Linked DNA regions of Homo sapiens. The protein of the gene in region 3 binds, or shares a complex with, the protein of the main gene of each other region. Each region holds a gene or a part of one and is shown on either strand. Other genes may lie near its edges. A codon is read from its position in the direction of its gene.

What was found.
Region 1: the proteins of H3C4 (region 3) and PHF2 are in contact, whole or in part, in a crystal structure (PDB 3KQI), measured with the Homo sapiens proteins. Residues at the interface, in NP_001363866.1 of Homo sapiens: Ala2 (codon at 1,651), Arg3 (codon at 1,654), Thr4 (codon at 1,657), Lys5 (codon at 1,660), Gln6 (codon at 1,663), Thr7 (codon at 1,666); in NP_005383.3 of Homo sapiens: Tyr7 (codon at 1,801), Tyr14 (codon at 1,822), Val16 (codon at 1,828), Thr17 (codon at 1,831), Arg18 (codon at 1,834), Phe19 (codon at 1,837), Met20 (codon at 1,840), Ile21 (codon at 1,843), Glu22 (codon at 1,846), Trp29 (codon at 1,867), Glu39, Ala42, Ile45, Asp46, Tyr48, Lys63.
Region 2: the proteins of H3C4 (region 3) and CHAF1A are in contact, whole or in part, in a cryo-EM structure (PDB 7Y5U), measured with the Homo sapiens proteins. Residues at the interface, in NP_001363866.1 of Homo sapiens: Arg43 (codon at 1,774), Gln56 (codon at 1,813), Lys57 (codon at 1,816), Thr59 (codon at 1,822), Arg64 (codon at 1,837), Leu66 (codon at 1,843), Gln69 (codon at 1,852), Arg70 (codon at 1,855), Arg73 (codon at 1,864), Leu83 (codon at 1,894), Arg84 (codon at 1,897), Phe85 (codon at 1,900), Gln86 (codon at 1,903), Ser87 (codon at 1,906), Lys116 (codon at 1,993), Arg117 (codon at 1,996), Val118 (codon at 1,999), Thr119 (codon at 2,002), Met121 (codon at 2,008); in NP_005474.2 of Homo sapiens: Val548, Glu602, Glu603, Glu606, Glu608, Asp622, Asp623, Gly625, Glu626, Asp627, Glu628, Asp631, Asp632, Gly633, Phe634, Phe635, Val636, His638, Gly639, Tyr640, Ser642, Glu643, Glu670, Lys674, Arg677, Phe678, Arg679.

Annotation. Positions count from the first base shown.
Region 1 is NC_000009.12:93,574,992-93,578,736, forward strand, and holds the start of PHF2 (lysine-specific demethylase PHF2), read left to right. Parts: upstream 1-1,592; 5' UTR 1,593-1,782; coding exon 1,783-1,880; intron 1,881-3,745. UniProt on the Homo sapiens protein: Lysine demethylase that demethylates both histones and non-histone proteins. Enzymatically inactive by itself, and becomes active following phosphorylation by PKA: forms a complex with ARID5B and mediates demethylation of methylated ARID5B.
Region 2 is NC_000019.10:4,440,587-4,443,989, forward strand, and holds the end of CHAF1A (chromatin assembly factor 1 subunit A), read left to right. Parts: intron 1-1,658; coding exon 1,659-1,755; intron 1,756-2,338; coding exon 2,339-2,439; 3' UTR 2,440-2,811; downstream 2,812-3,403. UniProt on the Homo sapiens protein: Acts as a component of the histone chaperone complex chromatin assembly factor 1 (CAF-1), which assembles histone octamers onto DNA during replication and repair.
Region 3 is NC_000006.12:26,196,139-26,198,897, reverse strand, and holds H3C4 (histone H3.1), read left to right. Parts: upstream 1-1,611; 5' UTR 1,612-1,647; coding exon 1,648-2,058; 3' UTR 2,059-2,114; downstream 2,115-2,759. Other genes in the region: H2AC7 (histone H2A type 1-D), read left to right, coding at 1-47. UniProt on the Homo sapiens protein: Core component of nucleosome. Nucleosomes wrap and compact DNA into chromatin, limiting DNA accessibility to the cellular machineries which require DNA as a template.

The DNA.
Region 1 (3,745 bases), on a different chromosome or scaffold from region 3:
CGGAATTCAGGTAGGAAGGCCTATTGCAGGCCATCCTGGCCAGTCCAGAGGTGTGGGAGCTGGGGGTCTCCTGCTCTTTCCTCTCCCTCTATGGCCAGCTACTTCTCCCCCCGCCCCCTTCCCCAGTGCCCAGTGCTTTGGGCACTGCCCTGAGTCTGTATCCACGGGGTCACTTGTTGGGGGTGGGTGGCTGACTCTGAGGGTAGATTTTGGCTCAGTAGGAGGAAGGACCTTAATTGAGCCGCCTGCGGTGGAGCAAACGGCCCCTTGGCAGCTGCAGGTGGGCGGTGATGGTGAGGGGCTGAGGGGCTAAGGAGCCTTGTCATGGATGCTGCTAGGAGACTGAGCCAGGTTTCCTGTCCGGAGATTCTGGAATTCCGAGCAGGGGTGGCCCACATTTCCCAGCACGATGCGGATTTTGCTGAGGGAGGATGGGGAGAGAAAGAGGGTGAGGGAGGAAGGGCGGGCAGGGATGTGGCCCCTGCCCAGCGCGGATGCCCCAAGGATGCAGCGCTGGCGAGGCAGGGAAGTCCTCCTCTAGAACGCGTGCAAGTGACCCCTCAGAGCGCACCTCCGCTTCTCCTCCCCACCGTGGGGGCTCAGTTCCCTGGACACGGGGGCCAGGGTTCCCATACTCCTCGCCCCTTAGGTCACGGGCCTGGGGGGCTCAAATGCCAGGGAGCTCTCTCTTGACAGAGCTGACCAGCCCGGCCCCTTAGGTCACGGGCCTGGGGGGCTCAAATGCCAGGGAACAGAGCTGACCAGCCCGTGCCAGCGCACTCCCGGCCCGGGCTTCTGTCCTCTTCCTCTGGGGCTGAGCATCAGGGAAGTCCGCGGGATCCTGCGAGGGAGGCGGCAGTCCCCAGCCGAAAATGAGGGGAAAGAGGAAGTGGTGTCCCAACCAGAAACTCAGTGGGGAACGGAGGGAGGCAGCGCGGCCGAGGAGGAGGAACACCCCCACCGTGGTGGGGGTCAGAAGAAAGTTAGGGCCAAGTATTTGCTTGTCGGCCTTCTAGACTAGGAAGGCTCTCCTGCGGGCTCCACTCCCGCACCCCGCGTCTCTCCTTCTGCCTTGCCCGGGTTCCCCCAACTTATCTTATCCTCGGGGTCCCGCCCACCTTCTCCCCGGGGTCCCACCCCACTTTCAGTCTCAAGGCTCCCCCAGCTCACCTTCGCGCCCGCGGACCCCTGGGTCTACCTTCAGCCTTGGGGGCCCTTCTCGGCCTATCTTCCACCTTCGAGATCCCCCCACCCGCCTTCTCCCCCGGCAGGGTCCCCCCGGCCGTCTTCTCCCCCGGCAGGGTCCCCCAACCCACCTTCTCCCCCGCAGGGTTCCCCAGCCCGCCTTCCCGGCGGCGGGAGCGGCGGCCCAGGCCGGCGGGCGGAGGCGGCGCCACCCGGGGCGCTGACGTAGAGGCCGCTCGGCGGCCGGGGGTCCCTTCGGTGGGGCCGCGGCTCCCCGCCCGCCGCCCCCGCGCGTCCATTCCCTTTTGTGTCCCGCGCGCGGCCCGTCCCCCGCGCACACTAGCGCCCTGAGCCCCGCGGGCCGGCGGGCGGCTCCCGGCGCGGCCCCTCCAGCCAGCGCGCCCGGCATTGTGTGGACGCGCCTGGCCGGGAGCGCGCGCGGGGGCTGTCGTGCGCCCCCGTCCCCGTCCCCTCCCGGCCGCGGCGCCGCCTGCGCCCCGCCGCCCCCGCCGCCCCCGCGCGGCCCGGCCCCCGGCCCGGCCCGGACCGACCCGGGCAGCGCAGCGGCGGGGCCGAGCGGCGGCGCGGCGCGGCAACATGGCGACGGTGCCCGTGTACTGCGTCTGCCGGCTCCCCTACGACGTTACCCGCTTCATGATCGAGTGCGACGCCTGCAAGGACTGGTTCCACGGCAGGTGAGCGCGCGGCGGCTGCTCGGCTCGGCCCGGCCCGGCCCGGCCACCTTGCCCGACCGAGCCCCGCGCCCCCGGCTGCGCGCCCGCAGGCCCGGCTCGGGGACGGGCCGCCGCCGCCGCCGCCGCATTCCGGGCGCCCCGGTCGGGGCTGGGCCGTGCCGGGCCGCGCGCCCTTTTGTGCCCAGGGCGGGGGCGCCAAGCACGGGGCCCGCGCTGGGCGCCCCTGGCCGCCGCGCACAAAGCGAGGCCCGCGGGCCGGGAGGTGGGCTCGGGGCTCGGGGCGCGGGGAAGTTGGGGCTCCAGGCCCGGGCCGGGCCGCCTGTCAGCTGGGTCGCGGCGGCCGCAGAGGCCGGGCATCCGGAGGGAGGCCGAGGCCCGGAGCCCCCGCCGCCTCCCCCCTGCGAAGTTGCAGGAACTTTCCCCGCGCGGGCTCGGGGTTGGCCGGGCCGGGAGAAGCGGGCGCGCAGCCCGGCGCGGGTCCCGGGAGAGGCGCGAGTGGCGGGCTCCGACTCCGGCAGGGCTGGGGAGTCCGTGGGGGCTCCGGCGAGGTGGCAGCCGGCGCGCCCACCCTCCGCCGTGGCCGGCGAGCTCCCTTGGACCTTGTCCCCGAGGGCAGGACCCCTCCCGGACCCCCGCGGAGCAGCTAGACCCGGCAGGCCTGCAGGTCCGCGGGCAGGAGTGCGGTGACAGAATAGTGTCTGTGAGTTGGGTAAGGGGGGTTTGTTGTGGCTTTGCCACCTCCTCCCTGGCCTTCAGTTTTCCCCGTTTCTCTCCTCTCCGTTCCCGGCAGGAACGCCGGTTTTGACATGATCTTATGCTCCCTAAGGAAGATGGGGAGGGGGGAAGGAGGTAACGCTTGGAGACACTGAAAACCCCCGCCCTCTTGGCCCTTGCCGATGGCCATGACCTGGCCCCATGCCTAGGGCAGGTCCCTTCCCACCAAGAAGTAAATGGAGGAGGAGGAAGAGGAGGTGACAGTGTTGCCCAAACTGCTCCAACAGGTTCTCTTGCATCTGACTTTGCCTGTGGGATGTGTTTGGACCCGGGGCTGGCCAGGGCTGTATGCCCTCTGGGGCTCCAGTCCCAAACCACCGGCAGCAAGCAGCCGGGGGAAAGAGAGGGGTGTGTGGTGGTGGGTGGTCCGGGATTCTCCTTCCAGAGAGGAGATCCTCCTGCAGGTTCTAAGACTGGGTCTTCAAGACTGGTCAGTGGTGCTTAAGAGTGGGCTGTGGCCCCAAGTCCAGTCCTGCCAGTTTACATGTGGGGACCTGGGTGGCTGGGATGTGACAGGGCCTGCTATGTCTGTCAGCCCCAGTCCTGAGTCCTACCTCCCTGCTGTTAGAAGGGCCTGGGACTCTGTGGGGTGGGGATGCCCACGGAAATCTGGGCTGCCTTCCTGGGTATGCCCAGGGCTGTGGAAGCCCCTTAGAGCAAGGGAGACTGAGTGTGAACACCGGGCTCTGCCCAGAACAGGGCTGACATGCACACCCTCAACTGGCAGCCGTTGAGAAGTTCATGGCCGGGCCAAAGTGAGTGAGAGCCTCTAAGGCTCCTCATATCCAGGGATGCTGAGCTGCTGGCCCTGAAAAGCCCTGAAAGTGGTGGGGCCTCTGCCTTCTCCCCCATCTCCACCGGAGCCCTGACCTGGCGAGCGCAGTCACTCTGCTACAGAACCTTCTGGGCACCTGTGTCAGCTCCTGGCTGCTGCCCACACTCGGGGCCCAGAGTAGGGAGAGTGAGAGAACGCGAGAAGACCTTTGTCTCGCTGCTTAGGGGACCCTCTGGGAAGGGAAGGCTAGTTCTGAACTAGACTTCGAGGCCAAGGGAAAAACTCCAGGAATGAGGGGCAGGCAGGCGACAGGGGC
Region 2 (3,403 bases), on a different chromosome or scaffold from region 3:
ACAAGTCACAGTCATCACTTCACATCAGGGACGTGTTCTGAGAGGTGTCCTCAGGCAATTTCATGGTTGGGTGGGGCTAGGTTGCTCTTACACATCCTAGATGGACAGCCTGCCACACGCCTGGGCCGTGTGGTACATAGCCCAGGGCTCCTGAGCTGTGGACCTGTGCAGCAGGTGACTGACTGCTCCATCCTGCAGGCACTTGTAACCCAGTGGTATATGTGTCTTTAACATAGAAAAGGCACAGCAGAGGCCAGGTGCGGTGGCTCATGCCTGTAATCCCAGCACTTTGGGAGGCTGACGTGGGCGAATCCTGAGGTCAGGAGTTCGAGACCAGCCTGGCCAACATGGCGAAACCCCCGTCTGTACTAAAAATACAAAAGATTAGCTGGGCGTAGTGGCGGGCACCTGTTAAAAAAAAAAAAAAAGGCACAGCAAAAATATCGTTGCGGCTGGGGCAGTGGCTCACGCCTGTAATCCCAGCACTTTGGGAGGCCAAGGCAGGCGGATCACTTCAGGTCAAGAGTTCGAGACCAGCCTGGCAACATGGTGAAACCCCATCTCTACTAAAAATACAAAAATTAGCCGGGTGTGGTGGCAGGTGGCTGTAATCCCAGCTACTCAGGAGGCCGAGGCAGGAGAATCACTTGAACCTGGGAGTCAGAAGTTGCAGTGAGCCAAGATCGCACCACTGCACTCCAGCCTGGATATATGGCAAGACTCTGTCTCAAGATTTATATATATTAAATAAAAATACAGTTGTCTGTAATCCCAGGACTTTGGGAGGCTGAGGTGGGTAGATCATAAGGTCAGGAGTTTGAGACCAGCTTGACCAACATGGTGAAACCCCGTCTCTACTAAAAATACAAAAATTAGCTGGGCGTGATGGCATACACCTGTAATCCCAGCTACTCAGGAGGCTGAAGAACGAGAATCGCTTGAACCCGGGTGGCGGAGGTTGCAGTGAGCTGAGATTGTGCCACTGCACTCCAGCCTCAGTGACAGAGTGAAACTCCCGTCTCAAAAATAAAAAATAAAGGCCAGGCATGGTGGCTCACACCTGTAATCCCAGCACTTTGGGAGGCTGAGGCGGGCGGATCACGAGGTCAGGAGATCAAGACCATCCGGATAACACGATGAAACCCCGTCTCTACTAAAAATACAAACTGGGCGTGGTGTCAGGCGCCTGTAGTCCCAGCTACTCAGGAGGCTGAGGCAGGAGAATGGCGTGAATCCGGGAGGCGGAGCTTGCAGTGAGTCGAGATCGCGCCACTGCACTCCAGCCTGGGCAACAGAGCGAGACTCCGTCTCAAAAAAAAATAAAAATAAATAAATACAGTTGTAATCTGATGGGGCCACTATCAGGTATGCGGCCTGTCACTGACTGGAAATTATTCTGCAGTTGGCAATGATGGCTGTTTTTGGAGATCTGAATCCAGTTCATTTGAGGGAACCCCCAAGGTTCTCTGGTTGTGGCCTCTTGAATAAACCTCTCACATTTGGACAGTTTGTTACCAAATTGGGTTCTGGATGTTGGTTTCCTTCCGTGTTGGGGGTGGGAGGAAGGTGTCACACCTGTGGAGTTCCCCCCGCTACCGCACTGGCACCAGGGTGGCTGCTGCCTGCAGTGCTGATGGCCGTGTACCCTGTCTGTCCAGATTGGTGCTGAAGACATGGACGGCTTCCAGGCAGACACGGAGGAGGAGGAAGAGGAGGAGGGCGACTGTATGATCGTGGATGTCCCGGATGCTGCGGGTGAGAAGGGCTGTAGATAGCAGAACGCACTGGTGAGGTGGGCGCTGGAGGTAAACCTCAACAGAGAAGGGATGGGGCTGCCTAAGACTAGCTCCACTGTGAGCAGCCAGGAGGGCTTGCAGCTGGAAGTGGCTCCTGCCCTGCCACATCCTCGGGCGGGCTGGGCCGTGGGTGCTGACCATGCCAGGCATCGTTCTGGCCGCAGAGCCACAAGGGCCTATGCTGGGAGTCTCAGGTGGTTGTGACGTTAGATGGGGGTCAGGGAAGGCTGCACTGAGGCAGCAAGGGAGGGCCAGGTGGATTTCTGGAGCACTCGCCAAAGAGGAAGTACAGAGGCCCTGCAGCAGGCTGCGTGGGAGGAGTGTGCCCGGGTGGTGGGGGGCAGGCAGGGTCAACCTGAGAGCAGGTGAGCAGGTCACCTCTAGAAGAGGCACAACGCCCCAGCCTCTGCCTGTCCCCACTGTCAGGTGGAGGGTCCCGCCCTGGGGTTGTTGCAGGCCCCATGAGGCAGCAGGGTGGGGTCTTCCCCCAGGGAGCCCAGAGGGCCCAGCCAGCTCAAGACCCTCCCTCTCTTGCCCTGCAGAGGTCCAAGCCCCGTGTGGAGCCGCTTCCGGAGCTGGGGGTGGTGTGGGGGTGGACACCGGCAAGGCCACCCTGACCGCGAGCCCACTGGGTGCATCCTGAGAGCAGGGGTGACGTATGTAGAATGCTTAGGGTGTCCTCCCCACAGAGCAGATACTTGAACCGACTCAATTCCTGTGTAAAGAGCACTTTGTCCTGCTTCACGGACCTCCCCAAAGTGTGCAGAGTTCTATATAGGATGCTGGATTAGTTCCTTTGATATTTGTAAAAATTCCCCCAAGAGCCGCATATGAATCTGCCCTTTAATAAAGCATTATTGAGATTGCTGGCCTATTGGGGAAGCCTGCGGGCACAGGAGCAGGCGTGGAATCCAATACTTGTAAATGAATTGAAGCGTCAGGACCACCCGCCTGGCCACGTGCGCGGGCCCCTGGACCTAACGAGGCAGTGTATAAACTTATTCTCTAGCCCTGAGCTGCTCTGTCTGTCTTTTCCGAAAACATTGTGTTTCTCTGAGAGTGCACCTTGCCCATGGCCCGGCCCCATGTGGTGCCTGGTGTCTGGGGCCAGCCTTGTGCCCTGCAACAGCACCGTCCCATCTGTTTGTCACTAAGTCACCCTCATACCAGGCTGACCTGGGTCAAGGTGCGGGTTTTTCCGCACGTGCTTCTGTCCGGCGATCCCTCCTGCCCTGGGTTGGGGGGTTAGGAGAGGGTGTTCCCAGAGACCTGCTAGGGTCACCTCCCTGAACCCGGAGCTGCTGGGAGCCGAGTTTGGCTTCGAGTCTGAGGCTTTGTGAGAGCCCACCCCAGGTCAGGTGCATCTTTTGCGAGTGCTGGAGCTAGAAGGTGACCTCCTCCCCGCCCCAGGTTGAGTGGGCTTTATCCACACTGTCCGAGGGAGGACAGGCGACAGCCGCTGTGGTACTGAGCAGCTCAGAGCACACGCAGCCACGGGGAGGGTCACGCTCGCCAGTCCTGCTCTTCCCAGCCACACCCCACCTGAAGTCCTAAGCTTCCCTTCAGGGAACCCTATGTGGGAAAAGTGTCAGCTACCTCCATCCACC
Region 3 (2,759 bases):
TGCTCCCCAAGAAGACTGAGAGTCACCACAAGGCCAAGGGCAAGTAAAACGAGAACTCTTATATTGGCTTTTTAAGGAAGCAGTCTTAACAAAGGCTCTTTTCAGAGCCACCCATGTATTCCTTAAAAGGGCTCACATTTTCTGTGTAAATAGCTATTTTGCAGTTTTCTTTAATAATTTTTCCATTTATAAGTGGGTGTTCTTAACACTGAATCGTGAAACTAACCGTCCATTTTAAAGATGCCATAAAAATACATAAGCAAATTGGCGGGGCGCGGTTCCTTACGCCTGTAATCCCAGGACTTTGGAAGGCCAAGGTGGGCGGATCACAGGGTCAGGAGTTCCAGGACAGCCTGACCAACATGGTGTGAAGCCCCGTCTTTACTAAAAATAAAAAAATTTGTCGGGCGTGGTGGCGCGCGCCTGTAATTTCAGCTATTTAAGAGGTTGAGGCAGGAGAAAATGTTGAACCCCGGAGGCGGAGGTTGCAGTGAGTCGAGATCGCGCCACTGCACTCCAGTTTCGGCGACAGAGCGAGACTGTCTCAAAACAAACAAAAACCCAAAAAAGCAAACTAATTAAAATGCAAAGAGACTTTATGTCACATGTAATTTAAATCGATCAATGCAGCGGCTCGTTAGGATTGCAAAGCTGTTAAAAGGCCTGAGACATACAGGAGAGAAGTTAATGTTTGTCAGTGTTTACATTTACATAAAAATATAGTTAGTGACTTAAAGCAACAGAACCAGAACAAATGTTTTATTGTCTTTTGTATGCATCTTAATGATACGAAATAACCTGTAATTTGTAAGTATTTTTTGGGTTTGTTTTTGCAAGCCACTTTCAACTCTACTGAGCTAACCCTAATTAATTATCAATAGGAATACAAACCTACATCCCCTGGAGCCAGACGGCCCTTAGGTGGAGCTTCTTAGCACAGTGTTCAGCATGACTAAAAGGGCACACTGGTCTTTTTGTGCCATTTATAAATTTGGCTTTTTTTTTTTTTTTTTTTTACAGCAGATTACACAAATACCAGTTGAACTTGTAAAAGATAAGAGTGCTTTCATATGAGGATGACATATTGTGGTGAAATTAAATGTGTTCATGTAGCTTAACATCAGGTTTCATATTGTTACTTATGAGTTAATAGTCATGGTGCATTTGGAACAAATTATTGAAAATATCTCCAAGTTTAAATAGACAAATCAAGATATGAAATTAACCTTTCTAAACTTAAGAGGGTAAAAAGAAATCACTTGGCCAATCACAACTAGCGCGCGTCTTTTTAAAACGTTGATCAAAGCCAGTTTCAGCGCCAACATTTAAAAAAAAATTAAGACACGTCATCCTAGTAGCTAGACACAATTTTGCCAAGGAAAACCAAAGTACGTTTTAAATAAAAGCTAGAAACATGGCACAGAGGGGAAAGGGTTGAAAACACCAGCAGTTAAAGATGGACGGAGGAAAGTTTTAATATTTGGTCTACATGCAGGAGATGTTCTGTCAGGGAGTGGGCGTCTCCACCAATCGAGCTGCAGGGGAAAGGCTGCCTTGTCCAATCAGAACAGGGGTGTCTTTATATATACGGGTACGAAAGGCTAGACTTTCGTTTTTTCGTCATTTAGCAGGGTTTAGAAGTTCGCAATGGCTCGTACCAAGCAGACTGCTCGCAAGTCCACGGGTGGGAAAGCGCCACGCAAGCAGCTGGCCACCAAGGCTGCTCGAAAGAGCGCTCCAGCCACCGGCGGCGTGAAGAAGCCCCACCGTTACCGGCCCGGCACGGTGGCTCTGCGCGAGATCCGCCGCTACCAGAAGTCGACCGAGCTGCTGATTCGCAAACTGCCATTCCAGCGTCTAGTCCGTGAGATCGCGCAGGACTTCAAGACTGATCTGCGTTTTCAGAGCTCGGCGGTGATGGCGCTGCAGGAGGCCTGCGAGGCCTACCTGGTGGGGCTGTTTGAGGACACCAACCTATGCGCCATTCACGCCAAGCGAGTGACTATCATGCCCAAGGACATCCAGCTTGCTCGCCGCATTCGTGGGGAGAGGGCGTAAATTGTCTTGTGAATGTGTGCTAACCAAAACCCAAAGGCTCTTTTCAGAGCCAACCACCTTTTCTATAAAAGTTGCTGTTTACTGTTGCTGTCCGTAAACTGGAACCTCTGTTCACTCAAGGTAAGTAAGCATTCTTGCCTCTATCCGTTCCCCCTCCCCTCACGGAATTGGTGCAAAAAGCTTTATTATAATTGGGGAGTTCTTAAAACAGCCTTTAAGGTACTCTTATATCTCCTTGTTTTGGGGGCCGCTTTCTTAGGCTTGGATGCCTCCGGCTTGGGAACTTTCTTGGCCACCTTTGACCAACCAACCTTCTCCAGCAGCCTCCACCAGCAAAAGCTTTTGGGGTCCGCTTAGTACTCTTTTTCGGAATAAGGACGCCCCAAGCTTTCTTGGGCCTCTCGGCTGCCAGGACAGCTGTCTTGGGCATGACTGCAGCGGCTTTTCTGGCCTCGGTCTTGATTTTCCTAACACTGCCTGGTTTGGCGGGAATGAACCTGAGGCGCTGCACTCCTTAGCACGAAGATGCCCTCGTTTGTTTTCAAGGCCCAACTTTATTCAAATAATTTTTAAAAATTTGTATTTATTTTTAGGGACGAGGTCTCACTGTGTTACCCAGGCTGGCCTCAAAACTCCTTAGCTTGGCCAGGCGAGGTGGCTCAGGCCTGTAATCACAGCACTTTAGGATGCCAAGGCGGGCG